Homo sapiens: one gene and its partners. The protein of the gene in region 4 interacts with the protein of the main gene of each other region in a pairwise test. Each region holds a gene or a part of one and is shown on either strand. Other genes may lie near its edges.

Region 1 (4,096 bases), on a different chromosome or scaffold from region 4:
CAGACTTTGAGCCTGGGGAAGGAACAGTGGCTCTCATGCACTTTGGGAGGCTTAAGTGGGAGGATCGCTTGGGCCCAGGAGTTCGAGAACAGCCTGCAGAACATAGCGAGATCGTCTCTACAAAAAATTACAAAAAGCCAGGCATGGTGATGCACGCCTGTAATCCCAGCTACTCGGGAGGCTGAGGCAGGAGAATCGCTTGAACCCAGGAGTTGGAGGCTGCAGTGAGCAATGATAGCGCCACTGCACTCCAGCCTGGGCGACAGAGTGAGACTCTGTCTCTAAAAAAGCAAAAAAGAGGGCGGGCACGGTGGCTCACGCCTGTAATTACAGGACTTTGGGAGGCTGAGGCAAGTGGATCGCCTGAGGTCAGGAGTTCGAGACCAGCCTGACCAACATGGTGAAACCCCGTCTCTACTAAAAATACAAAGAATTACCCGGGCGTGATGGCGCACGCCTATAATCCCAGCTACTCGGGAGGCTGAGACAGGAGAATCGCTTGAACCCTGGAGGCGGTGGTTGCAGTGAGCCGAGATCGTGCCATTGCACTCCAGCCTGGGTGACAGAGCGAGACTTCGTCTCAAAAAAAAAAAAAAAAAAGCAAAGAAAACAGGCTTGGTTCCTGCAGAGGCTTCTAGAGCCTGGAATGAAGAGGAGGAAAAGGGCTTCCCGGTGGGAGATTGACTTGGACCATCTCAAGAATAGGGAGGAAAGAACAAAGCCCAGTTCGAAACCCCGCCCCCGGTTCTCTGAGTTACTTCAGGGCTCGAGTTCGAGCCAGTACAACTGTTACGTCACCGGAATCCAGCCAATCGCAGACGACAGAAGGAGGGCGTTGTTTGGTCTTTCAGCACACCAATCGGCGTATAGTTACGGCAGAAACAAAGACGTCCTAGCCAATGACAGAGGCCGTACGGCGGAAGTATAGAAAAGGACTCTCTGGAACATGGCAACATTAATCTGACCACAAGCTGACTGGCAGGTGCTTTAACCACAAGGTGGGCATCCTAACGCGAGCGACCGTTTTGAGGCAGAAGCCCGATGGGGCCCGTGTCCGAGCTTAGGGAGGGGCCGGAGACGCAAACACAGGTCTCCCAGGAAGCAGGCGGCGTCACAGGTCGCTCTGCAGGCGCCCGCTGCAGCGGGCGGAGTCTGGCTGGAGAGAGGAGGCGGGCGTCCGGGAACGCCCGGAAGGGGCGAGGCCAGCGGCGGGGCGGGGCTTATGGAGATCGTGAGCTGGGCGTGAGGAGAAGGCCGGGTTGGGAGCTGCGAGGGGCCGGGTTTAGCGGGGTGGGCGTGGCCGTCGAGGTGGGGCTCGGCGGGTCCGAAGGAACCTGGGGCAGAGCTGGAAGAGGAAAGGTCTTGGGGGCCCTGGGCCTGGGTCTGCGGGAGCCCCATCTAGCGGGGTTCCAAGGCGGCGGCGGCATCAGTCGAGGCCCTGCTCCGGGAGCTCATCTTGTCCCCTTTCGCCCCTCACGCCCCCCAGCTCTGACTCCAGGCCCTGTCCCCTGAGCTCTGCCCTCGGATGTCCGACCGCCCAGAGCCTGCATGCGCCGTGGGGCGCCCCAGGACCAGGAGCTGGTGGGTCCGGGGCCCCCTGGGCGGGGGTCCCGGGGCGCCCCTCCTCCCTTGGGACCCGTTGTCCCGGTCCTGGTCTTTCCCCCGGATCTAGTATTCAGGGCGGACCAGCGGAGCGGACCCCGACAGCTGCTGACCCTCTATAACCCCACAGGAACTGCGCTTCGCTTCCGAGGTAAAGGGATCGGCGCCTCGTGGGGGCTGGTGGCCGGACACTGGGGGGTTGTGTTGGCTGGAGGAGTCAGATGGGTAGGGTTGCACGTCCAGCTTTGGTGGACTGGGAAAGTCATGTCCAGCCTCCGGGGCAGAAGGCAGAGGGGACTTAAATGACCCACATGGCAGGGCTTGTCTGTGTGTGTCTCTATCCCCCAGTCCTGTGCACAGCACCTGCCAAATACACGGTGTTTGACGCAGAGGGATATGTGAAGCCCCAGTCTTGCATTGACATGTGAGTGAGCTGGGAGGGTGGGGAGGCTTGTGGAAGCCAGGGGTCGCTGCCACCTGTTGTCTGAGGTCTGAGACCTTGCCCCCTTTAACCTATTTGCCCTATCCTCTGCCTGTGCCCCTAAGGGAGAGACTTCTGGGGGGAGGCCCAGATTTCCTTGGATTACTGCCTCATTCACCCCAATGGGCTTCTCTCCTACCTTGGGACCAGTGTGATTCGCCATGTGGCACCCATTCCCAGCCACTATGATGTCCAGGACCGCTTCCGCATTGAGCTGTCTGAGGAAGGAGCTGAGGGCCGAGTGGTGGGACGCAAGGACATTACCTCCATTCTGAGAGCCCCAGCGTACCCCCTTGAGCTTCAGGGACAGCCAGATCCAGCGCCTCGCCCAGGGCCTCCTGCTGGGACACCACCACCCACGGCCAGACACTTCCAGGAGCGTGAGTTGGGAGACTGGGATCTTGAGTTCTGTAGGGAGGGAGGAACTAGCATTTCCCTAGAGATGAGATAAATTGGATTTGAAGAAGTCTCCTGGTTCAGTCTTTTGTCTTTTGGTGGAAACATTCCTCCGAGTTGAGATTTTATATCAGGTGAGGGGGAAAAGACTTACAGCTTCCCTGGTTTCTGACTTCTACTTAGAGGAAAAAGTTCTTCCTTGACTGTAACCGCAGTACTTCCTATCATGTGGTAGCTCAGTTCAGTTCAATAAGAAACCTGTATTGAGCAATTAACCCTGTACCAAGTTGTGTGCTGGGTATGAGATCAAGAGAGGTCCCTGCCTGTCGGATAGGTCCACAGAAGAGAGAAAATGAATGCTGAGGGACTGGAGGAGAGAGTTCTTGTGGTGGTGGGGACAGAGGCTGTAGGAAGGAGAGGACACTTGCAGTGTACCCCTGGAGGGCAGTAAAAAGTAGATACAGGGTGTGATGGCTCACGCCTATAATCCCAGTGCTTTGGGAGGCTGAGGTGGGCTGATAACCTGAGGCCAGGAGTTCAATACCAGCCTGACCAACATGATGGAACCCCGTCTCTACTAAAAACACACAAAAATTAGCTGGGAGTGGTGGCTCGCACCTGTAATCCCAGCTAGTCGGGAGGCTAAGGCAGGAGAATCACTTGAACCTAGGAGGCAGAGGCTGCAGTGAGTCAGGATTGTGTGGCTGCACTCCAGCCTGGGTGCAACAGAGTGAGACTCCGTCTCAAAAAAAAAAAAAAGTAGATACAGGGTGTGGTGACTCACACCTATAATCCCAGTGCTTTGGGAGGCTGAAGTGGTGGGAGGATTGCAATTGCTCGAGGCCAGGAGTTCAAGATCAGCTTGGACAACATAGCAAGACCATCTACAAACAACTTAAAAATTAGCCGGGCATGGTAGCATGAACCCATAGTCCCAGCTACTTAGGAAGCTAAGGCAGGAGGATCACCTGAGGCCAAGAGTTCCAGACCAGCCTGGACAACGTAGTGAGACTCCATCTCTACAAAAAATAAAAGATAATTAAAAAAAAAAAGTAGATACATCTTCCTTGTTCAGGCTTCTCCCTGGAGGACCTGGGCTGGGCAGGAGTGGGGGCTGCAGCATCTGATGAGTCTTGTTTCTCAGACCCCCGCCAGCAACTGGCCACCAGCTCCTTCCTCCTCTTCTTGCTGACGGGGATTGTGTCTGTGGCCTTCCTGCTGCTCCCACTCCCGGACGAACTCGGCAGCCAGCTGCCTCAAGTCCTGCACGTCTCCCTGGGACAAAAGTTGGTGGCCGCCTACGTCTTGGGTGAGGACAGTAGTGGCCAGGGACCCAGGCCCCAGGAAAAAGGGAGAAGGGACGGGAGGAGAGCTAACAGAGCCCCAGGGCTGCCCATGCGACCCTATTCTTTCTTTGTCCCCCCTCCAGGCCTCCTCACCATGGTGTTCCTCCGGACCTGAGCTCCGTGCTCAACCCCCAGCCCACCCCACCCTCCCTGGGCAGGGTCTTGAGGCAGCCACTGTGATGCTCATACCTTACCTTGCCTCCTACCCTCTTCTCTTTCCTGCCTACTCCCCACTCCTCCCTGACAAAAAACACCCAGGGATTTGTACTCA
Region 2 (4,140 bases), on a different chromosome or scaffold from region 4:
AGGGTGGTGCTACATGCCTGTAGTCCCAGCTACTCGGGAGGCTGAGGTGGGAGGATTGCTGGAGCCCCGGACTTCAAGGCCGCGGTGAGCTATGATCCCACCATTGCACTCTGGCCTGGCCAACAGAGTAAGACCCTGTCTCAAAATTAAAAAAAAAAAAAAAGGAAAAAGAAAGAAAAAGAAGAGAAAAGGCCAGTGAGGCCACTGCCACACAACCACTGAGGGGCAGGCAGCTGGCTCCATACTGCCAGACGCCCTCCTCCCCGGACCGCGCAGCCTCTGTAGCCTTCGCCTGCCCCCGCATTTCTCCTTGGCTCCTACCTCCCCTCTCGGCTGCACTTAATGATTTCCCGGATTCTTACAGACCATTGGGATCGCTTCCTTCAGAGTGTTTTGGGAAGCCCAGCACGCCCCAGCTTTCTCCCCAAGGGGCAGGCTGCTCTCAGGAGCGGGAAGCCCATCCCCACCTTCATCCCTCTGGCCCAGAGGAGGCTTCCTTCCCTGGAGGGCTGAGGCAGCAGGCAGCTGGGTCAGCCCATGCCTCTCGCATGTGGCCATCTGAATCATTTCCTTTCGCAATGTGTTACTCAGTTTCAGGGCCTGCCACGTGGGGGTGTTTCCATTCCTTTCTGCAGCTGGACTTGGTGGACGTGGGGAACGTGGCAGTTGTGCCTTTCTCTGGACAGCGGAGGACCTCCCTGGACCCCAAACACCTAAGTCCTCATCACCTCCGTTTCTTTTCTATAAAATGGAGGTGATGACACTTGATTTGTCTAACACTTTCTTAGTTGTAAGACAAACAAGATGACCCAAGCGAAGGGGCTGAGTAGACTCCAAAGCAGTGCCTCTCAGTTGAGGGCTGGGAGTGGATTCTGCCCTCTCGGGGACATCGGTTGTCACTCCTGGGGGAGGGAGCTACTGCGTCTAGAAGGTAGAGCCAGGGACGCGGCTAAACATCTTATAACACACAAGACAGCCCCTACAACGAAGCGTTAGCCAGTGCCAAATGGAAATCACGCGGAGGTGGAGAAACCAGCCTAAAGAATGATTGAAAAGTAGTAACATTTACGATGGCCGGGCGCGGTGGCTCACACCTGTAACCCCAGCACTTTGGGAGGCCGAGGCGGGCGGATCACCTGAGGTCAGGAGTTCTAGACCAGCCTGGCCAACATGGTGAAACCCCATCTCTACTAAAAATACAAAAATTAGCCGGGTGTGGTGGTGCATGCCTGTAATCCCAGCTACTTGGGAGGCTGAGGTGGGAGGATCGCTTGAGCCCAGAAGGTGGAGGTTGCAGTGAACCTTGATCGCACCACTGTACTTCAGCCTGGGTGACAGAGCAAGACTCTGTGTCAAAAAAAAAAAAAAAAAAAAGCGAGAGAGAGAGAAAGAAAAGTAGTAACATTTACGGGGAACTCACTCTGTGCCAGGTACTTTACATGCATTATCTCATTTAATTGCTCCAGCACCCTATGAGGCGGTATGGTTATTACTCCCATTTTACAAATGAGAAAACTGAGGCACTGAAGAGTTAAAGAACTTACCCAAGTCCCACAGCTAGAATAGGATGGAGCAGGAATGAATCCTGGGGGCTTCTACTTCCCAGGCCCACTCTTTTTTTTTTTTTTTTTTTGAGATGAAGTTTCGCTCTTGTTGACCAGGCTGGAGTGCAATGGCGTGATCTCAGCTCATTGCAGCCTCTGTTTCCCAGGTTCAAGTGATTCTCCTGCCTCAGCCTCCTGAGTAGCTGGGATTACAGGCACCTGCCACCACGCCTGGCTAATTTTTGTATTTTTAGTAGAGATGGGGTTTCACCATGTTGGCCAGGCTGGTCTCGAACTGCTGACCTCAGGTGATCCACCCACCTCAGCCTCCCAAGACCCACTCTTAATCTATGTGCTACAGAGCATGTTTCCAGTCTGCCTATGGTGAGGGTCTCACATCCATGCCTGAACAAATGCTGTTTTGCAAAAATGTGCACTATCCTTCCTCCACTCCAAATATAAGCAGATGCTATTGTGATGAATAAATGCAAATTCTTATAAAGTGTTAATAAGTCAGTGTTACTTTTCTGACATTATGCATTTTCCTCAATCAAGGGAATCTAGAAAGTAAACTGCAATTACGTTGCAGGAGTCCATGAAAATCTTTCCTCTCTAAAACAAGGGAGCCTCAGGATCTAAAAGGCAGGAAACCTACGTGACAGATCTGAACTAAATTCAAATCAAGCAACGCCTTTTCTGAGTTTATCTTGCTTTCATGCAGCTCAGCTATGTTACTTGCTGAAAAAATTAACTGCCCTGAAGCCAAAAGCAAAACGAAAGCAGAGCGAAACATCTCACCAACCATAGAAGGATTTTGCAGCTAACATGTTTGGTTCAAGTTGGGACAAATGAATCCTTTGGGTCTCTTCCATTCAGTTACAGATCCTGCTGTTAAAGGCTGTTCCAGTAGAATGATTTCCACAGAGCACTTGTCTCTAAACCTCTCTCCTCCCTATAAAAGACCACCTGCTGGACAAGACTTTCCCCCTCTCCCCACCATAATCCCTCCCAACACAGAGTTCCCTCTGCAACACCAGGAGCCCCCCAGCGACTCTCCAGGAAGGCTGCACAGGCCCTGGCAGCCAAGCCTGCTCTTGGCCCCTTTCCCTGAGCAACACACTCACCCCTTCCTTCATGCTCTGATCCTGTTGCTCCATGCTTGCTCTGGAAGGGCAGAGTGCCGCTCACCTCCTTTTAGCCAAAGTAACGCGTGCACTGAATGGAGAGAGAAGACATTCTGGGTGCACTTTGGCCATGCCAAATAACAGCCAATAGCATTTTTATAGCCAGATTAAGTCAGAATAACCCTTTCAGGAACCTGGTCTTCCTTTCACTTCTGCTTTTAAATGAAACGTCTGGGGTTTGGCTAAGTAAGTGGGTGCCCCCTGGGGACTGCAGGCCCAGCATTGTCCTGATGGAACAGTCTACGGTATTTCCCCATTGCTAAAGTCTCTACCAGTCAGGCTCATGGTGAATGACTGGAAGGGTTATTTCTGTCAGGAACGCATGGCAAACAACAGCTGTCCTCCACCCTACATGACACCAGGTAATCTGAGGGCAACAGATTGGGCCACTAGAGACCTCAAAGATGCTCTCCCTGCCAGGAAAACTACAGTCAAGTGTCTCTTGGTGGAGAGTCAGTTTTGCCCAAGTCACCGTGTAATACTGTTTGGGGAAAGTTTCTCATTTTCTGTTTTTTTTTTTTTTTTTTTTTTTTTTTGAGACGGAGTTTCGCTCTTGTCCCAGGCTGGAGTGCAGTGGCATGATCTCAGCTCACTACAACCTCCGCCTCCCGAGTTCAAGCGATTCTCCTGCTTCCACCTCCTGAGTAGCTGGGATTACAGGCGTGCACTACCACGCTCGGCTAATTTTTATATTTTTAGTAGACACGGGGTTTTGCCATGTTGGCCAGGCTGGTCTCGAACTCCTGACCTCAAGTGATCCACCCTCCTTGGCCTCCCAAAGTGCTGGGATTACAGGCGTGAGCCATCGTGTCCGGCCTCTTATTTTCCATTTTAAGGAGCTCAGAATGACCTAGGGATGTTACTTTCTGTGTATTCATCACTACTGGGAAGGTGGTAAATACCTCGAACCCCTTTCCAGGCAGGGCAGGGAAAATGAGTCACACCTGCTGGTCCGGGTCCGGCCATCTCAAGGCCAGGCCACTGTCAGCCCCCCATGTTTGGCACTCATTCAGCTGCCACAGGGCACACCAGCGCAAGTGGCCAAAATCCAAAGTCTCACAAGTCCCACAGGTTTTCATCTTTACAGAACATACTCCCAGTTCTATTTGCTGTGGCGTAAATCCAGTTACTTTAGTGATTGATTCTGAATCTCATGCATCTTTAAACAAGCAGAGACTGGGAGCCTGTGTTAGGCACTGTTCCTTGCATTAGCAGCAAATCCCCAGGGTTGCTCAGGGTGGGAGACTGTGAGAAGCCTAGCAGCGTGGCCGTCTGTGTGTGTGTGTGTGTTGGGGGGTCGGGGGGGTCCCTATTCACAAGGGAGAACTCAGCATTCCCTTTCACCAGCTACTGCCTGTCTTTTTCTTCTGCGTATCACTGTCCTAGCACACTGACTTGTGACTAACGCATAG
Region 3 (4,150 bases), on a different chromosome or scaffold from region 4:
GGTGCCACTGCACTCCAGCCTGGGCGACAGAGTGAGACTCCATCTCAAAATAAATAAATAAATAATAAAAAGAGACTAGCAAATTAACCCAAAGAAAGTAGAGGAAAGGAGTCCAGGTGCGGTGTCTCATGCCTATAATGCCAGCACTTTGGGAGGCCAAGGCAGGTGCAATCACTTGAGGTCGGGAGTTCACAACCAGCCTGGCCATTGTGGTGAAACCCCATCTCCATCAAAAATATACAAAAATTAACTGGGCGTGATGGTGGGCGCCTGTGGTCCCAGCTACTTGGGAGGCTGAGGCAGGAGAATGGCATGAACCCGGGAGGCGGAGCTTGCAGTGAGCCGAGATGGTGCCACTGCACTCCAGGCTGGGCGACAGTGAGACTCCATCTCAATAAAAAAGAAAAAAAAGAGGGGACACAGATACCCAAGCCAGCCCAGAAGTCGGGGCAGAGCCAGCCACTGTCCTGGGAGGCCTGTGAATGAGCCCCTGTGGGAACAGGACGTGTCACTTCCTAGCGACTCAGGAGCCCTGACAGCCAGGACAGACCCCTGGTGCCCACAGACAGGACAGGGGTCATGGAGGACCTCCCGCCATCACTGCTGACTCACCCCTGCTAGCGGCCGGGGGAGGAAGCCCTAGCGGGTACCTCCGGTGAGCTCATGCCAGCCTGCCCGCTCCCCACGGCATTCCCGGGGCCGCACGTCACAGGCTGGCAGGAGCCTATGGGCCTGCAGTAAGGGCGGAGGAGGCCACTCAGACAGCAGAGGGGTAGGGGCTCAGACAGGCCCCAGCTCAGCCCCTTCCTAAGCTCTCCAGGCCTGTTTACGGTCTGTTAAAGGGCAGCCCTTCCTTCATCCTGGCCGGGGTGGGGAGAATGGAGCGTGGAGGCAGGTGGAGCCTGGCAGACTGGGAGGGTTTTTCCTGGACAGGCGACCCACACCAACCTGAGGGGGCAGCACAGACAGGCTATGCCCCTCCCCAGATGCCCCGTGCCCGCCCGACCTGCAGCAGTGGGCAAGCTGTGAGCATGGGGAAGCCAGGGAGGGCGTGGGGTGCAGACAGCAGCTGAGCGCCCTGGGCCACGTTTCCAGACAGCACAGCCAGGTCTGGACTTTCGCCGCCCCGCCTGCTCTGCCCCACCCTGGCCAGCACTCACCAGCCGGGCTGGAAACGACTCCTCTGCAGGACAGGTGGACAGAAGCTCCCCAGGACTCTAGGCTAGAGGGGCAAGGACATGTCAGGTCACAGGTTACAGGTCTGGCCCAAGGGCCAGAGTGGGCCGGGTTCATTCTGGAGGCAGAGAGAGGAGTGGCCAAGCCCGGTATTTTAGTCTGGGCTAGGGTGGGGCAAGGCACAAGACATTTTGTTTTTTTCTTTTTTTCTTTTTTTGAGATGGAGTTTCGCTCTGTCACCCAGGCTGGAGTGCAATGGCACGATCTCAGCTCACTGCAACCTCCGCCTCCTGAGTTCAAGCAATTCTCCTGCCTCAGCCTCCTGAGTCACTGGGATTACAGGCACCCACCACCACGCCCAGCTAATGTTTGTATTTTTAGTACAGACAGAGTTTCACCATGTGGACCAGGCTGGTCTCGAACTCCTGACCTTAGATGTTCCACCCGCCTTGGCCTCCCAAGGCAGACGACATTTCGGGACAGTCTGATCCTGGGAGGGACCTCATACCTTCCCCCAGGTGCCCCACTCTTGGCCTTCGCTCCAGACCCATCACTGGCCCTTCCCCCACAAACAGCGGCAGCTACAGCCTGGGAAAGAGGCATCATGGAATGGAGCTGGAGGGGGACAGACCTTACCACTGAGCTGAGAGGGGATATTCACCCTCCATGAAGGAGCCAGGGCCTAAATACACGCAGGAAGGGTGGCACAGGCAGACCCTGCCACCAGCGGGGGGATGTGTCTGCCACCGGGGGGCGGGGTGTGCGTCTGCCACCGATGGGGGGATGTGTGAGCCCCTCAAGGACCTGCCCCTGGCCTGGCTGTAAGGTCCCAGGCTTTCTGGAGAAGTTGGTTCTGGGCACAGATGCGTCCTCCACCGCGAGGACACAGGCGACCCGCTGAGGAGTGGCCCCTCTTCCCAGGAATGCCTGGTCCCTCTGGACCCCCTGGGAAAGGGCCTTCCAGAAATAGTTGTCTGTTCCTCCCCAAGTCCCCGGGACCTGCACCAGGCCCCTGGGCGGCCCGCGCCCTATCAGGGGGAGCCCCAGTCAGGGGGACCTGGGACTCCGCGCCTGCCAAGCGTCCCCGGGGCACTGCAATGAGGTCACCGCCGCCGCCGACCCCGCCCGGCGCGGCCAATGGCGCGCCCACTTGCACGCGGGCGGGGGCTGCTGCGGGCGGAGGGAAGACTGCCGTGTCCAGGGACAATGAGCAGGGTGTCCAGGCTGCGCGTCCCGGGACCCCTGGGCTGAAGGGGGCCGTCAGGCCGGTCCAAGGGCCCGGGAGGCGCCTCTCCTTCCCGCTGCGCCTCCCCAACCCGCCCGGAGTCCGCCTCCCGCGGAAGGGCAGGCGAGGGAGCTGGGGCAGGCGAGGGAGCTGGGCCAGGCGGTGGGTGCGGCCTCCCGGAACCTCCCGGCGCCTGCGGCTGGGCCTCCGGGGCTGGGGCGCGCAGGGCCTTCGGCCCCCTCGCGCCCCTCGCCCCCCTCGCGCCCCTCGCCCCCCTCGCCCCGCTCGCCCCGCTCGGCCGAGCTGTCGTGGCCGCGCACTCACCTACCACGCGTCCGAGTCCGGGCCCTGGCGGCGGCGGCAGCAGCTGCGGGGGCGGCGGCTCCCAGCGCTGAGAATGCGCGGCCCGGAGCCTACGAGGGGGACGCCCCGCCCCGCCCCGCCCCGGCCCCGCCCCGGCCTCAAGCCCCTCCCGCGGCGGCGGGCGCTCGGCAGGTCTGAACCCGCGTGGGTGTAGGCGCTGGGGGTCGACCTGGCACTGCGGAGGCCGGGCGAGCTGCAGCCCTGGGGGCGCCAATAGCCCAGCAAGGGCCCATCCCGTCCAAGGACGGAGGAGCTGGGCGGGAGGCGGGCCCGGAGGTAAGACGGCGACCAGCCTAGCCAGAGGCCCTGGGCTGTGGCGACCCGGCCCTCCTCCATGCCCAACCCCCATCTCTTTCTCCTCACCCAGGAACCGCCCAGAGGCTGCAGGGGTCGGCAGAACCGATGCCGGCCTGGGGCGTGGGAGGGCCTAGCGCTGTGGGCAAATGCGGGAGAAGGGCTACTGTACGTGCAGTGTGGACAGCCTGGAGACCCGGGCAGGCCTGGGGTCCCAGCGAGACATACCCATGGGGTCCTGGGGGGCCCATGCCCTCCAGACTGGAAGGGACCACTGGGAGCGGTGCGAGGAGGTGAGGGACGAAGGGCAGGGCCGGCCTAGGGCTGCACCAAGACGCCAAGAGTGGGAGTGAGGAAGGAGGGGGCTGCCCACCCACCAAGCTCATTCATCACAGCCACAGGGGAGGACCAGCATGGGAGGGGGTGGCCGACTGAGGCCGGGAACCTGCCCGGCCTCCCTGGCGAGACAGTGGGGAGCCCTGATCCACACACTGGCGAGGGCCCCGAGGGGCTCCAGCCTTGATGGGTAGTGTGAGTTTGGGGCATGACCAGGGACACAAGAGGACACGCAGGACCTCAGCCCCATCGCCACAGGCCCGCGCTCCCTGTATTCACCCACACAGCACGCGTGCACAGGTGCCCACCTCATCCATGTGGCACACACAGGCTGTGGCTCCCAGACACACGGAAGGCCCAGGAGGACGCAGTGCAGTCAGTGGGTTTTATTTGACGAGGGGGTTTTCTGCTGAACTGAGATGGGGTTGATTGAACGGGGACAGAGCGAAGACTGGCAGAGGGCACACACGGGACCCTGGCCACTCCCGGGACCCTGACCACTCCTAGGCTAGGTCCTTCATGTCTTCAGTCAGGCGAGCCTGGGGCCCACTGGGGAGAGCCTGCATCCTGAGTGGGCACCCCCGACCCATGACAAGCCTCCTGCAAGGGCAGCTTCTAGCTCATGGTCCGTGAGTCACTCGGGGCTGGTCACCGGGCACTGGGAAGGTGGCCAGAGCCGCGTCTGGGGGGCCGAGCCCAGCAACAGCAGCAGCAGCAGGTGGGCCCAGGCAGGCGGGCTGTTGTCAGAGCCTTCCT
Region 4 (3,500 bases):
ACTATAAATATGTGCAGTTTGTTGTAAGTCAATTATACCTCAATGAAACTCATTAAAATTACCATATTTTGGGGATCTATTTCTAGAATCTCTATTGTGTTTTATTGATCTCTGTGTCTATCCTCTAGTCAATACTATACTGTTATGATCACTGTGGTTTTATTTTATAGTATGTCTTTTTTTTTTCTTTTTTTTTTTTTTTTTGTGATGGAGTCTTGCTCTGTTGCCCAGGCTGGAGTGCAGTGGCACCATCTCGGCTCACTGCAAGCTCTGCCTCCCAGGTTCACGCCATTTTCCTGCCTCAGCCTCCTGAGTAGCTGGGACCACAGGCGCCCACCACCACGCCTGGCTAATTTTTTGGATTTTTAGTAGAGACGGGGTCTCTACTGTGGTCTCGATCTCCTGTCCTCGTGATCCTCCCGCCTCAGCCTCCCAAAGTGTCGGGATTACAGGTATGAGCCACTGTGCCCGGCCACTACTTTATAGTATGTCTTAAATTGGGTAGTATGAGTCTTTAACCTTGATCTTTCTTCAAAATTGTTTTGGGTATTCCAGTCCTTTACTTTTACATATATTTTATAATGAACTTGCCTATATCTACAAAGACTCATGCTGGGATTTGTTTGGAATTGCCTTAAATCTACAGATCAGTTGGGGGCTCTGGCATTTTAACTCTTTTTTTTCTTTCTTTCTTTTTTTTTTTTTTTAGTATTTATTGATCATTCTTGGGTGTTTCTCGGAGAGGGGGATGTGGCACGGTCATAGGATAATAGTGGAGAGAAGGTCAGCAGATAAACACGTGAACAAAGGTCTCTGGTTTTCCTAGGCAGAGCTCCCTGCAGCCTTCCGCAGTGTTTGTGTCCCTGGGTACTTCAGACTAGGGAGTGGTGACGACTCTTAATGAGCATGCTGCCTTCAAGCATCTGTTTAACAAAGCACATCTTGCACCGCCCTTAATCCATTTAACCCTGAGTTGACACAGCACGTTTCAGAGAGCACAGGGTTGGGGGTAAGGTTATAGATTAACAGCATCCCAAGGCAGAAGAATTTTTCTTAGTACAGAACAAAATGGAGTCTTCTATGTCTACTTCTTTCTACACAGACACAGTAACCATCTGATCTCTCTTTCTTTTCCCCACATTTCCCCCTTTTCTTTTCGACAAAACCGCCATCGTCATCATGGCCCGTTCTTGATGGTCACTGTCTCTTCGGAGCTGTTGGGTACACCTCCCAGATGCGGCGGCGGGCAGAGGCGCTCCTCACCTCCCCGACGAGGGGCGGGCAGGCAGAGACGCTCCTCACTTCCCAGACGGGGCGGCCGGGCAGAGGCGCTCCCCACTTCCCAGACGGCGCGGCCGGGCAGAGGCGCTCCTCACTTCCCATTCGGGGCGGCCGGGCAGAGGCGCTCCTCACCTCCCAGACGATGGGTGGCCGGGCAGAGGCGCTCCTCACTTCCCAGACGATGGGCAGCCGGGCAGAGGCACTCCTCACCTACCCGATGGGGCAGCCGGGCAGAGGCGCTCCCCACTTCCCAGACAGGGTGGCGGCCGGGCAGAGACGCTCCTCACCTCCCAGATGCGGTGGCGGCCAGGCAGAGGCGCTCCTCACCTCCCAGATGGAGCGGCCAGGCAGAAGCGCTCCTCACTTCCCAGACGGGGCAGCCAGGCAGAGGCGCTCCCCACTTCCCAGACGGGGTGGCCGGGCAGAGGCGCTCCTCACTTCCCATTCAGGGCAGCCGGGCAGAGGCACTCCCCACTTCCTAGATGGGGTGGCGGCTGGGCAGAGACGCTCCTCACATCCCAGACGGGGTGGCGGCCGGGCAGAGGCGCTCCTCACCTCCCAGACGGGGCGGCCGGGCAGAGGCGCTCCTCACTTCCCAGACAGGGCGGCCGGCCAGGGGCGCTCCTCACATCCCAGATGATGGGCGGCCAGGCAGAGACACTCCTCACTTCCTAGACAGGGTGGCAGCCAGGCAGAGGCGCTCCACACTTCCCAGATGGGGCAGCCGGGCAGAGGGGCTCCTCACATCCCAGACGATGGGCGGCCAGGCAGAGACGCTGCTCACTTCCTAGACGGGGTGGCGGGCAGGCAGAGGCTGTAATCTTAGCACTTTGGGAGGCCAAGGCAGGCGGCTGGGAGGTGGAGGTTGTAGCGAGCCGAGATCACGCCACTGCACTCCAGCCTGAGCAACATTGAGCGTTGAGTGAGCGAGACTCCGTCTGCAATCCCAGCACCTCGGGAGGCCGAGGTGGGCGGATCACCCAAGGCCAGGAGCTGGAGACCAGATCGGTCAACATGGCGAAACCCCATCTCCACCAAAAATACAAAAACCAGTCAGGAGTGGCGGCGCGTGCCTGGAATCCCAGGCACTCGGCAGGCTAAGGCAGGAGAATCACAGGAGCCCGAGGCAGGGAGGTTGCAGTGAGCCGAGATCATGGCAGTACAGTCCAGGCTCGGCAAGAGAGGGAGACTGTAGAAAGAAAGAAAGAAAGAAAGGGGAGGGGGGAGGGAAGGAGAGGGAGGGGGAGGGGAGGAGGGGGAGGGGGAGAGGGGGAGGGGGAGGGAGAGAGGGGAAGAGGGAGAGGGGAAGAGGGAGGGGGGAGGGGGAGGAGGGGGAGGGCTATTCCAAGGATTCTTGAGAGCTATGCTGTATCCCAAATTTATGAAAATAAAAATGGAATTTTCTGCTGAAATCCTTATAAGTTACAAAGGACCACATTTTAAGTCATGGAAAAACAGGTTAGGAACAAACTGAATAATAAAAGACCTTGAGAAAATCATGGTAAATATGGCATTTGAAGACAGAAAAATATTGAAGTACTCGTTTGTAAAAACAAACATAAAAAATGAGATGAAGTATAAGTTTTATTTATATATACATAAGATAATTACTTTAAATAACTAGATTTATTACCTGATTCCAATGATGGCCGGTCTGTCTCATCTTCATTCTTTAACTGCTGTGTTAATGCCTCCTTATAATTTTCTACTAGTCCAAATTCATTATTTTTTTGGCCATTGTGATTAACCTGGCCTTGTGTCTCTATTTGCTCATGCTCCATTTTATGTTTCAGGTGGCAGCCATCACTGTCTTTCTCCATTTTTTGGTTTTTTTTCTCTCTTTCAAGTTTTCCTTCATTCTAACAAAAAATAAAATACATTATCTTTACTATGATGGTTTTATCTAAGATAGTTTTAAGGGAGAGGAAATCAAATACCTTAACAGGATTCTGTAACTTCAAGGACACTGTGAGACTTCTATTTTAAAAATGATTTCATGAATACATCATTAAAAGATGCTAAATGTCAAACATTCAGTAAAACAGAAAGTATAACAAAAGCAAACAAATATTACCAGTAATTCCACAATCTAGAGATGACTACTATTCATCTGTATTATTCCGTATATAATCTGTTCAGTATATAATCACTAAGAGATGATTTTCTCTGCCAACCCCCACACATACATACCTATATCATGTACAGACATACATCACCCA
Region 5 (3,218 bases), on a different chromosome or scaffold from region 4:
GAGCTCTGCTTTCTTTGCATGGCTTCACTCTCAGGCAGTCCCTTTATGGGGTGGCAGAGACAGCCTGTGGCAGCTTCAGGCTTCCATGCACCCCACTCAGCCACCCCAGAGCAATGTGAGCCCTTATTACCCCCGAGCTTAAGCACAAGTCTTAGGCAGGCTCAGATTGGCCCAGCGTGAATCACTTGCCCATCCCTTACTGAGCATCATGGACAGGGGGCTGGAATGCTCCGACTGGCTAGGCCAGGGTCGCATGCCACTTTCAGAGAAAGGTTAGTAGGTTTGGTGTATGTGTTCGGGGGTTGGGGGCAAGGATCCCCAAGGGAAATAGAGGAGCACTTTGCAGAGAGCCTGGGTGGGGTCTGAGGCCATCCAGATCCTTCCTCAGGGCCTCCACCTCAGGGGTCTCAGGAGACCCACCTGGGGTAGCTGCTCATCTCACAGGCTGGTGCCCCTCTCCTCCCGCCCCTGCAGATGCTGATGTACATGTTTTATGTCCTGCCTTTCTGCGGCCTGGCTGCCTATGCTCTCACCTTCCCTGGTTGCTCCTGGCTTCCAGACTGGGCCTTGGTGTTTGCTGGAGGCATCGGCCAGGTGAGGTGGCGGATGGGTGGGTGAGCAGGCATGTGGGAGGGAATTTCTGTCTACTCATCAATGCCTTTGGTGTCCTCCCTGGGCACTGTAATGATGAGCCCCCAAGAGGCCCCAGCCCCAGGCCCAATATCCCAGGATTCCCTAGTCTAGGGGAGACAAAGCCAGATACAGACACTCCAAGCCCCATGAAAATAGGGACAGGGGCTGTGAAGGATTCCAGAGGGGAAAGGTTTCCTAGAAGCAAGGCATAGGAGCTAGGCTTTGATGTACGAGGATGAGTTCTCCAGGCAGGGAAGGGCATTCCAGGAATGGGAACAGCACAAGGAGAAGCACAGAGGGAGAGAGTGACTTAGCAGGGCCATAACCCAGGTAAAGGCAGATAAGAGAAATTGGCAGCTGGATGCTGAAGGCTTTGAACTCTGGGACTAGGGGCTTGTACTGAGGGTGATGGGGCGTTTGAGGAGGAGTTTGAGCAGTGAGGGGCCCAGTCAGAGCTAGGAGCCTTTTTCTGGGTTCCTGATGAAAAGTGCTAAATCCTGGGCCCCGGCCAGGGAAGTAGGGACCAGGAAAACATTTAGAATCCACAGGATTTGTGCCAAGACCTCTGGGGTGGGGAAGACTGGGAGGAGGATCTGGAGCCAGGTCAGAGAGAGATGGGGTGCAGGGCCCAGGAGATGGGGTTAGGCAAGTTGGGGGGGACTCACAGACAAGTGGACAAGCACAGGGAGGGACAGACAGGACATGTAAGGGCAGGAATCTTTACAGACAGAAGGCCAGGTGAGGTGGCTCACACCTGTAATCCCAGCATTTTGGGAGGCCGAGGTGGGAGGGCTGCTTGAGCCCAGGAGTCTGAGACCAGCCTAGGCAACATGGCAAAAACCTGTCTCTACAAAAAGTACAAAAATTAGCTGGGCATGGTAGCACGTGCCTGCTGTGCTAGCTACTCGGGAGGCTGAGATTGGAGGATCACTTGAGCCCAGGAGGTTGGGGCTGCAGTGAGCCATGATTGTGCCACTGCACTCCAGCCTGGCCAACAGAGCAAGACCCTATCTCTAAATAGATAGATAGATAGATGGATGGATGGATAGATAGATAGATAGATAGATAGATAGATAGATAGATAGATAGAAATTTTAAAAATAGGCCAGGCATGGTGGCTTATGCCTGTAATCCTAGCACTTTGGGAGGCCAAGATGGATGGATTGCCTGACCTCAGGAGTTCGAGACCAGCCTGGGCAACATGATGATACCCCATCTCTACTAAAAATACAAAAAATTAACTGGGCATAGAGGTGCACGCCTGTAGTCCCAGCTACTCAGAGGAGGCTGAAGCACGAGAATCACTTGAACCCAGGAGGCAGCGGAGGTTGCAGTGAACCGAGATTGCACCACTGCACTCCAGCATGGGCAACAGAATGAGACTGTGTCTCAAAAAAAAAAAAAAAAAAAAACAGATAGATGGACTGGAGATGGGAAACAGATAGATGAGCAAAGCCCGAGAGGTGGGGATGGGCATCCCCTGGGTTCTGCCTGACCTACCTGGGGGGCTGTCGGTGATGCTGGGATTTCAGTTCCTTCCTGGCCCCTGACATCCATCTTCCCTGTCTGGCTACCAGGCACAGTTCTCGCACATGGGGGCTTCCATGCACCTGCGCACACCCTTCACCTACCGTGTGCCTGAGGACACCTGGGGCTGCTTCTTCGTGTGCAATCTGCTGTATGCGCTGGGCCCCCACCTGCTGGCCTACCGTTGCCTTCAGTGGCCCGCATTCTTCCACCAGCCACCACCCTCCGACCCCCTAGCCCTCCACAAGAAGCAGCATTGAGAGAGCTGTGGACTCAGGACCCAGGACTCTGTTTACGTGCCCAGTCAGCCCTACCTGGGGAAGCGGGGGTTGGGTGTTTTAGAGACAGGAGGGACATCTCCGGGTGTCTTTAGTCTTGGCTATGGTAGTTTCAGTCCAGTGGGTGGGATGGAGACCAACGACCAAGTGTTCCTGCAAGGAGAGCCTCCCACAGCTGTCACCATGCTCCAACTCCCACACAAACGCTTCTACCCCTTCCAGAACTTACCCATCATCCCCCCATGGATCCTTTCAGTAAAAACCCTTTCAATTTCCAAAATATCACTGCCTAAGTGTTTCAGGGTGCAGGGGCAAGGGATCCTCTTCTTGGCCCCCATGAGGGCCCACCTATCACTGCCATCGTGGTTGCCAGGAGTGAGAGGTGCTGGGATAGCAGAAGGCGGCCTCTGGTTGGTATGCACGGCTCATCTTCCAGATGGGAAAACCGAGGCTCAGTATGGACAAGAGACCTGCCCAAGGTCATGGCCAGAGAGAAAAGTTCCTGCTCTACCAATAAATCATAACTAATAGCATGATACATTTATTAAGCACCTACTGTATACCTTGACTGCTACATGCTGGATCTCACTCCATATTCCAGATGGGGAAACCAAGGCTGCAGGAGGTGAAGGTCCTGGTCTGAGATCATTCCCCCGCTCAGTCCCCAAGGCATGGCTGAGCTAAGAGATGGAGCCCCAGCCTGTTGGACCACAGAAACCACAACTCTGCCTCTCCTATCTGGTCGGGTTGGGCTCATTTTAGGGGAAACTGAGTCCTGGA
Region 6 (4,189 bases), about 54 Mb from region 4:
ATTGGACAGTGCAGCCATATAACATTTTCATCATTATAGGAAGATCAATTGAACAGCAATTGGATAGATCCTGTCTTATTCCAGAACATTATTCCTAGATCATTATAACCTATGCTTTACCCCTCCATTATTTCTGTAAGCCATTTTCCCAGAAGAATAACAGGGCATGTCTATGCGCCCACGATATAATTAGATTCAGCCCCCAAATTCAGTCACATCACAACATTTGCTACAGGAGGGCAGTCACGCAGTAGGTCTTCATGGCTCAGAACAGCTAACTCTTTCCATCTCAACTGATTCCCCTGCAGTGTAGCTGCAGTCACAGACACTTCTTGGTGTCAAAGTTGGTCACTTAACACCTTAATCCTCCTACCTTGTCATTGAAAGTGTAAACTGGTACAGCATCAATGGAGGGCAACTTGTCAATATTTATGAAAACTGCAAATAAGCATGCCATCTGACTCACAATCACTCTTTTGGGAAGTTATCCCACAGAACTAGCTCCACATGTGTAAAATGACTTAGACACAAGGTTACTCATTACAGAATTGTGGGTAATAGCAATGGAAAGGAGAGCCAACTGCCATGGAGTTGACCTGCAGAGCATGTAAAGAGGTCCTGTATCACTTTTCTGTGATTCCAAATAAAAGTACAGGAACCAGTTAATCCACAGAGGCAAACTTTTGCATTAGCTTTCAAAGAATGCATTTGTCAGTGTTAGTTATAGAAGTTTAAGGGATTTTTTCCCTCTAACAAAATGGGGTAGAAATTTAATCTGCCAAGTTAAACTTGTCCTTTGGAAGGAATGTAACAGGTTAGTCTGTATGAGTGACGTTACAATCTGTGTTAACATTTCAAAGTGTTTTGGGGGAAAACCTAAAGATCAAAGGAAAACAGCTCCTCAAGTGCAATGTCCCTTTACAAAAATAAAAGTTCATATAGATTGCCCTTACTATCCTAAAATCATATCCTTTTGGAAGACAAGAATACCCAATTTAGGGGCATGACTAAAGAATGTCTATCCATGGGGGAGGAGTGTGTGATATGTATGCAGTTTCCTGACCACAGCTACGTGGCTGGCCTCCTAAGTCTTCTGTGTTTCAGCAGTTTTCAAGTAAAAAGCTATGATTACCTTAAGCAAACTCTTGTCCTTGCAGAAAAGCTTATTACAAAGCAAAATGGATGAGACCAGGTCTTACTCATTTAGGAAATGCAGCCTAGAGCTGTGCTGTCATTAGGGCTGGACAAACATGGTAATTGCAAGGTACCTACCTGAGCTTGGAGAAGCCAGAGCCTTCTGGGCTTCCACATGAGCAACTCCAAAAAGTGCTCTAGAGGCAGGCGGGGCAAGCTTAGAAGTGTGTGTGTGTGTGTGTGTGTGTGTGTGTGTGTGTGTGTCTGTGTGTGTGTGCCTTCCAGTGTGAGAAAATCCTGCACTTGTGCCTGCAGTATCAACCATAACAACACTGACTCACAGTGAGGGGTGGGGGTGTTGTAGGCACTGTGCCAGCAACATTTGGATGGGAATACAGGAAAGATCCAAGTACTGTACAATTGATCACAAAATCAACAATACAGTATTCTAAAGCAAACGTTACACACAGCTAGCTAAGGGAAACCACAAGGGCCAAATTAATGGATTATACAAACCGGAAAAACCATTTAAGTGAAACATGCATGTTAGTCCTTGTTTTGTGTGGCTTTGATGAAAAGCATTACTTTTATTTGAGGAATGCCGGTGTTGAAACCCAGCTGAGTACTGAGTCTCAAACCAATAAAGTTAAACAATCATTTGCAGGGGATATGGATGAAAAACTGTAGGCCGAAGCTGGGGTTCTCTTGCGATTTGGCAAAACCACGCTTGCTACCTGCTGAGAGATACTAACCTGCTTGCTCACATGGTTGGCGGGTCAGCACAGTGAACATCTTTTCTCCTAGCTGCAGGTGAGAGAATACAGGATGTCAGTAAGTCCACCGCCCCGGCCTCACAAGTTTAAAGAACGAGCCCAGGTTAAGACAAAACCCATTTTACTTCCTCCAAATCAAAACCTCATCCCGGGAAAGGTAAGCCGAACCCCAGAACTTCAGAGACAGCCCCAAAGCTGGAGCTTAAATTTCATGTCATCTCCCCAAATGAAAGGAAATGAAAAATGGATTTGCTGAAACTTCAAACTGAAAAGGTTTTCCGAAAAAAGGTCTTTTTCTGCAGATTGTTCCACCTGTACACACACCCAAGAGAGAACAAATCTTCCCCCTATTATTAACATTCACAAAGCTGAGGCGGGGCTTTTTTTCAGAACATGAGCAAGGAAGGTTTTTGTGTGTTCATGGATCGCGAGCCTGGAGCCTCTCTAAAGCCCCGGGAAGGGAGTCTTTAGCTGCTGGCTGGAAATTGCAAAGGGATGTCGGGGCCCTGGGATCCAGCCCCCACCAGGATCTGGGGTCACCTCTCTGGACTGCGTCTCTGCATAGCCGCAGGCATCTAAGCGCCCAGCACATCTGCGGATCCATGCAGGCTGTCGGTAAAGACGCGCCCACCCGTCGTGGGCATGACAGGGACCACCTCCCAGCCGCCCAAGGATTTGGGGCTACCGTGTTTCAGTCTCTTCCTCTGGCCCTCTGAGGAAATCCGATTTTGTTTCTTTGCCTCCCAACTCTCAGTCTCACGCAGCACCCCCGACTCCTTCCTCGGCAGCTCAGGCGCCGGGTCCCCTGATCTTACCTGTGCGGAGCCGATTCGGAGAAGGCGACTAGCGCTGCCGCAGAGGCGGCCCGCGGCCAGCGCTAAGGAGGTGTCAGCTCAGACGCCGGGAGGCGGCGCCGGGTATAGCGGGGCGGGGGCGGGGCGGCCTCGGCCTGGGACCGCCCCCCCCGTCCGTGTCAAGGCCAAGTACCTCTTCACCTTCTTTTCTGATTGCTCTCACCTTCACACCCAGCCCTCGATGGAAGGGGAAGGGAGAGAGAGCGCGCCTCTTGCCAAAAGACCGGCCCTGCCTGCCCAGAGAGCCTTCTGTCCCCCTCCAGGTCGAAGCCAAACAGCACTTCACCTTTCCTCTTTCAGTTCCCTCCACACTCACCTGTACCTGAAGTCGGAGAGGAGGGAGCCAGGCCTTGCCCTGAGAACCCACCGGAGCCTATGTGGGCGAGGGGGAAGGGAGGTGTCTATTATCTGCCTCCTTCTTGCATCTGTGTCAAGACCAAGAACCTTTTGATCTGTCTTCTAGTTACCTCCATTGTCACCCCAACCCTAGGTGGAGGGAAAATGGGGACAAGGCCAGGCAGGGACTGGGCACTCTGTGGGTGTGCATGACCTTATGTGGTCCCCCGGTGGGTGGCTCCTGTGCTCCGTCTCTCCACGGGGTGGAGTAGAGTCAAACACCTGTAATGTTGGGAGTGAGGCCAGTAGGCAGGCTGGCCCCTAGGTCACTTGGGCCTAAAGCACAAAGTATGGCAGGCACATTCCCTTTCACACTTAGCAGAACTGCCTTGGCCATGCCCAGGGCCATTCTTGCTGTTTACTGAGCAATGCTCTGCCCTACCCCATTTAATATGGATGTCATAAGGCCAAAAACTCAAGACAAGTACAGCCCGGAAGAGGCAAAACAGAAAAGATAACAAAAAGGCAGCATGTGGGCTGCCGTGATCCAAACACCCCAGGAGTCTGTCTCAGTGTACAGCAGCAGGCAGCCTCCCGGCTCCTCTGAGTGACCCCAGAGACCCTTGGAGTGATCCCAGCAAGAGGCCTAAGCAGGCCCTGTTTGACCATCCCTCCTTATGGTTCCTGCATGTCTGGAAGGAAGAGCTGAGTCCCTGGCTATACCCTGCCATAGCCTGCTTTCTCCTAGAAATCCACTAATTTTCTGTCCTGTGCAGGTGGGGCCAAAGCCCCTAAGACAAGAAGTCCTTAAGATAGGAATGCCCCTGCTTTGATACCTCTGAGCCCAGAGAGGTGGGCCCCAAGCCTGAGTTATGTGTGTGTGCCTGTGTGTGTGTGTGTGTGTGTGTGTGTGTGTGTGTGTGTGTGCCCGCGCGCAAGAGCACCATGGTCATTCACCCAGAGTTGGATAGAGGTGGACCCCATTGGGGGATTGGGACAGGGTCTGCACTGGGGGTGTCAGACATTCAGTGAATACTTGCTGAATTAAAAGACTTGTTTTCTTTGAAAGCTGTGGGACAATGAAACATAAGG
Region 7 (3,500 bases), about 80 Mb from region 4:
CCCGTGCCCAGGCTGTGCCGTCACCCAGAGGGCCTCTCCCACTCAGCTGCACTTGGCCAAGTGCAGCTGTGCATGCGACTGAACTGAATCTGCCTGGCGCAGGAACCTGATCCTAGCGCCCTGACCCTCCTATTTGGAGAGCCCAGGCCTCTCCGCACACCTCTGGATACTTGGGATTTTCGCTGTGGTAGAAAAAGTCTCCACGGCGAATGATGTCCACATGAGGGTCCTCCAGCTTGGATAGGCTCAGGGACTTGAAGTTGTCGACTTTGTCGATGAGGCCTGAGGGGACCAGAGTGGTTAGAAACCCAGGGGACCAGGTGAAAACCTCAATCTGCAAAGTCCCTGGCCTGACCCCCTTCCACTGCACCCCTGGAGCCTGCACACGTGGCACTCCCACCTGCAGTGCCTCTTTCTGACTCTGTCTCGTCCACGGCTTCCCCTGGGTTAGACCATCTCCTCCAGGAAGCTTTCCCTGTGCCCTCTCCCACCAAGTCAGAGTGACCACAGCACTGGGAGTGGCCTTAGCCCTTTTCCCTTCCATCAAGGTTACGGCCATCCACGTCCAAGCCTGACTCACCTCCTGGGTTGAGAGCTACTTGAGGGCAGGCCCAGCTGGCACACAGGCACCATCCAGCAACAAAGCACACAGAAAGCGGCCAGGCCAGGCCCAGGATCATCCAGCCTCCCCAGGACTATCTGGGCCCTTGGTATCCTCTCCCACCTTCATGGGTCAGGCCCAGGAACAGAGCCCCAGGGTTACTCTGGCCCATGGTGCCACCTTATCCCTTGCAAGCTTCTCTTTGGAGTCAATGGGGGATGCCTGTGATAAGCTAGTGCCTTCCTGGGACAGGTGGAACTCAGAGAGGGGGAGCCCTAGGCTGAGAGCACTGAGCCACCACATGTCTACTACTAGCCGGAGTCTGCTTGAGGAAGGACTGTCTCAGCAGAGTCTACTCAGCAGACACCGGCACGCAGCAGGGTGAGGATGCATGCCTGAGTCATTCTCTGGAACAACCCAGATTTCAGAGGAACCTGGTAGGATGGAGTGGGGTGGGGGTTTCTACGTCAGCCCTTGCTTCCTGGGGATTCGCCTTCCCCTGGCCCCCAAAGCATGGTGCTGGGAAAGGTGCAGACTGATCCTGTGCCTTTAGCCCTCTGAAGGCTGAGTACTGGGAGCTCCGGCCCTAGGGGGGCCTTGTGCTTCTGGCACGAGCTCCTCTGGAGAGGCCTGAGACTTACCTGACGAGAGGAAAAACCTGCCAATTTGGACAAAGGGGGCTGTTGCCATGAATGACTCCACTGCCATGGCACTGTGGGAGAGAGGAAGCTGTCAGAGATGGGCACCGGTGTGGGAGCTGCCCGGGTCCCTTTGGGTTGTTTGTGCTGGGCAGGGTCCCCACCCGGGGGTTCCTGCAAGTCCAGATTAGCCCAGGCGCAGCAGACATCTTGTCCTGTCCACCCCCAGGGGCCCTGTGCCCCCTCCCCTGGGCTGAGCACCCTCACTCTGTCTCCTGTTCCCCGGAGCTTCCTACCCTCTTGCCTAGACCCCTGCCAGCCTGTCCTGCCCCACCCACTGCTGTCAGATGTATCTTGCATGGACTTTACACCCCTCACTAGCCCCTCCCAGAGCATTCCATCCCAACCATCTTACTGGCACAGCCCAGACCATTGCTGAACAAGGCCTGCTCTCTAGCCACACCCAAGTGTTATGCCCGCCTCACCACTGGCATGCCGTGGAGCTAACCTCCCTCTGCTGAAATCCTGAGAAGCCTGAACAAATGCCGCTGCCTCTGGAAAGCCTGTCCTGATTGTCCTCCCACCCATGGCAAACCATTAACAAAATGCTTCCCCGGCCCCGTGTGTGCAAATCCCCTTAGACGCTTAGTGCAGGCCTTATATTTGTGACTTGTTTGCGGGGAGCTTGTCTGGGGTCAGGGGAGACAAGTCTCTGTGTTCCTGGTGCCCAGCACAGGGCTTGGTCTCAAACCCATGTCCCACATTTTCAACCCACGAGGCAGGATTAACTCAATCCTGTTATTCAGATGAAGAAACTGAGGCTGGAGACCTGCCAGTGTAGACAAAGCTGCACTCAGGCCTTGGGCCTGGCTCTCACCTGGGGTTTTTGTGGCCAATCTCTCGGTCGAAGTTTTTGCTGTTGATGATTTCTGACCTCCATTCAGTGTCTGCTCAGGGAGAGGAATCAACTCAGAGCCCGGGTAGGAGTGGCACGCGGCTGAGACCCACCAGCCCAGCTCCTCCTATCTCACAGCCAAAGGGGTGGGTCAGGGAGCCTCAATGGATGGGTGGGAAAGCAGGGCTCTGAAGACTTGCACCCAGGGATCCTGATGCCTGGTGCTGAATCCTTCCCATGGCCCCACCAACAGCCCTGCTGTCCAGCCACCACTGTGGGCCCCCACCATGGGCAGAGACCACGTAAGGGGCCCAGCACTCACTGTAGGAATACCTCGTCTCCTTCTTCACCTGCCCATCCTCGGTGTACTCCCTGCAGGGAAAGCAAAGCAGCCACGGGGGTTAGCCTCGTCGCCCCAGGCAGTCTAATCTCTAAGCATCTGAGCAGGAAGCAACCTCAGGGCTACCAGATCAGACTCCCCAGATACGGCAGATGCCTTCTCTACACCAGCCCCAAGACAGGGCACTCACTCCTGACAGACAGCCAGCTCCTGCCCTCCAAGGCGCTACCTGGAGGAAAGCGCTCTCCCATCCTGAGCTGAAATCTGCCCGCACTGGCCTTACACCAAGGGGCCCAGCCCTGCCCTTTGGGCTCAGAGATCTGGCTGCATCCTCTGCTCCAGGACAGCCCTGCGGGGGGCCTCTTGAAGCTGCCCTTCTCCTGCTCCTCCCACCACCTCCCCACCTGTCGGTCACAGTCCATATGATTCAGGTGGGGCTGAACCCACCCCCAGCTCCAGGTGACCCCAGCCCTGATCAATGAGAACCTGCCCTGGGACTCCTGTCAGAAACGATAAGCTGTAAGTAGAGCAAAGATGGGACCAACACAGCTGATGGGAAGGCTGAACACAGAGAGATGCAGTGGGGTCTCGGGGTTGACATGCTGATCCTAATGACAGTGTTTCAGGCCTGCTCCAAGTCATGCTTCAAGCTTGTGCATCTCTGGAACTTCCCAGATGTGGGAGCAACTCAATCCCCCTTTCCTCCTGGAGCCACTCTTCACTGGATTTTTGCCACTTCCAAATCACTGGCTATTAATTTGGGGATCATTTCACACTTTTCTGATAGGAAGATGTTATACTTGAGTTTCAAAGGTATCAAAATGAAAGACATCTGCATGTTATCCTGACACCTACACTTCACTCCTCCTTTACCCCAACAGAGTTTTCACCCCAACAGCTCACCTGGACTCCTCAGTTTCTACCCATTGGTACATCTCCACGTGCCTCCGCAGTTTCACAGCCGGAAGATGGACCCCATAGTTTGGATCAGACAAAAGCTTCAAACAGAATCAAAGAAACCAAAAA

The links.
Region 1: the proteins of ARL13B (region 4) and MOSPD3 interact in binary tests that used the Homo sapiens proteins (3 or more experiments, as listed by UniProt).
Region 2: the proteins of ARL13B (region 4) and SLC2A5 interact in binary tests that used the Homo sapiens proteins (3 or more experiments, as listed by UniProt).
Region 3: the proteins of ARL13B (region 4) and CD151 interact in binary tests that used the Homo sapiens proteins (3 or more experiments, as listed by UniProt).
Region 5: the proteins of ARL13B (region 4) and TM6SF2 interact in binary tests that used the Homo sapiens proteins (3 or more experiments, as listed by UniProt).
Region 6: the proteins of ARL13B (region 4) and ENTPD3 interact in binary tests that used the Homo sapiens proteins (3 or more experiments, as listed by UniProt).
Region 7: the proteins of ARL13B (region 4) and TMEM43 interact in binary tests that used the Homo sapiens proteins (3 or more experiments, as listed by UniProt).

Annotation. Positions count from the first base shown.
Region 1 is NC_000007.14:100,611,244-100,615,339, forward strand, and holds the start of MOSPD3 (motile sperm domain-containing protein 3), read left to right. Parts: upstream 1-1,296; 5' UTR 1,297-1,548; coding exon 1,549-1,753; intron 1,754-1,950; coding exon 1,951-2,026; intron 2,027-2,233; coding exon 2,234-2,463; intron 2,464-3,623; coding exon 3,624-3,788; intron 3,789-3,908; coding exon 3,909-3,940; 3' UTR 3,941-4,096.
Region 2 is NC_000001.11:9,066,836-9,070,975, forward strand, and holds the start of SLC2A5 (solute carrier family 2, facilitated glucose transporter member 5), read right to left. Parts: upstream 2,801-4,140; 5' UTR 2,702-2,800; coding exon 2,669-2,701; intron 1-2,668. UniProt on the Homo sapiens protein: Functions as a fructose transporter that has only low activity with other monosaccharides. Can mediate the uptake of 2-deoxyglucose, but with low efficiency. Essential for fructose uptake in the small intestine.
Region 3 is NC_000011.10:831,602-835,751, reverse strand, and holds the start of CD151 (CD151 antigen), read right to left. Parts: upstream 2,801-4,150; 5' UTR 2,726-2,800; intron 1,760-2,725; exon of another isoform or gene 1,685-1,759; intron 1,223-1,684; 5' UTR 1,161-1,222; intron 1-1,160. Other genes in the region: CRACR2B (EF-hand calcium-binding domain-containing protein 4A), read right to left, coding at 4,043-4,150. UniProt on the Homo sapiens protein: Structural component of specialized membrane microdomains known as tetraspanin-enriched microdomains (TERMs), which act as platforms for receptor clustering and signaling.
Region 4 is NC_000003.12:94,042,655-94,046,154, reverse strand, and holds part of ARL13B (ADP-ribosylation factor-like protein 13B), read right to left. Parts: intron 3,141-3,500; coding exon 2,915-3,140; intron 1-2,914. UniProt on the Homo sapiens protein: Cilium-specific protein required to control the microtubule-based, ciliary axoneme structure. May act by maintaining the association between IFT subcomplexes A and B. Binds GTP but is not able to hydrolyze fit; the GTPase activity remains unclear.
Region 5 is NC_000019.10:19,263,866-19,267,083, reverse strand, and holds the end of TM6SF2 (transmembrane 6 superfamily member 2), read left to right. Parts: intron 1-474; coding exon 475-594; intron 595-2,210; coding exon 2,211-2,420; 3' UTR 2,421-2,718; downstream 2,719-3,218. UniProt on the Homo sapiens protein: Regulator of liver fat metabolism influencing triglyceride secretion and hepatic lipid droplet content. May function as sterol isomerase.
Region 6 is NC_000003.12:40,385,795-40,389,983, reverse strand, and holds the start of ENTPD3 (ectonucleoside triphosphate diphosphohydrolase 3), read right to left. Parts: upstream 2,801-4,189; 5' UTR 2,723-2,800; exon of another isoform or gene 2,593-2,722; intron 1,939-2,592; 5' UTR 1,927-1,938; coding exon 1,887-1,926; intron 1-1,886. UniProt on the Homo sapiens protein: Has a threefold preference for the hydrolysis of ATP over ADP.
Region 7 is NC_000003.12:14,131,552-14,135,051, reverse strand, and holds part of TMEM43 (transmembrane protein 43), read right to left. Parts: intron 3,473-3,500; coding exon 3,378-3,472; intron 2,507-3,377; coding exon 2,457-2,506; intron 2,190-2,456; coding exon of another isoform or gene 2,187-2,189; coding exon 2,117-2,186; intron 1,314-2,116; coding exon 1,243-1,313; intron 283-1,242; coding exon 161-282; intron 1-160. UniProt on the Homo sapiens protein: May have an important role in maintaining nuclear envelope structure by organizing protein complexes at the inner nuclear membrane. Required for retaining emerin at the inner nuclear membrane.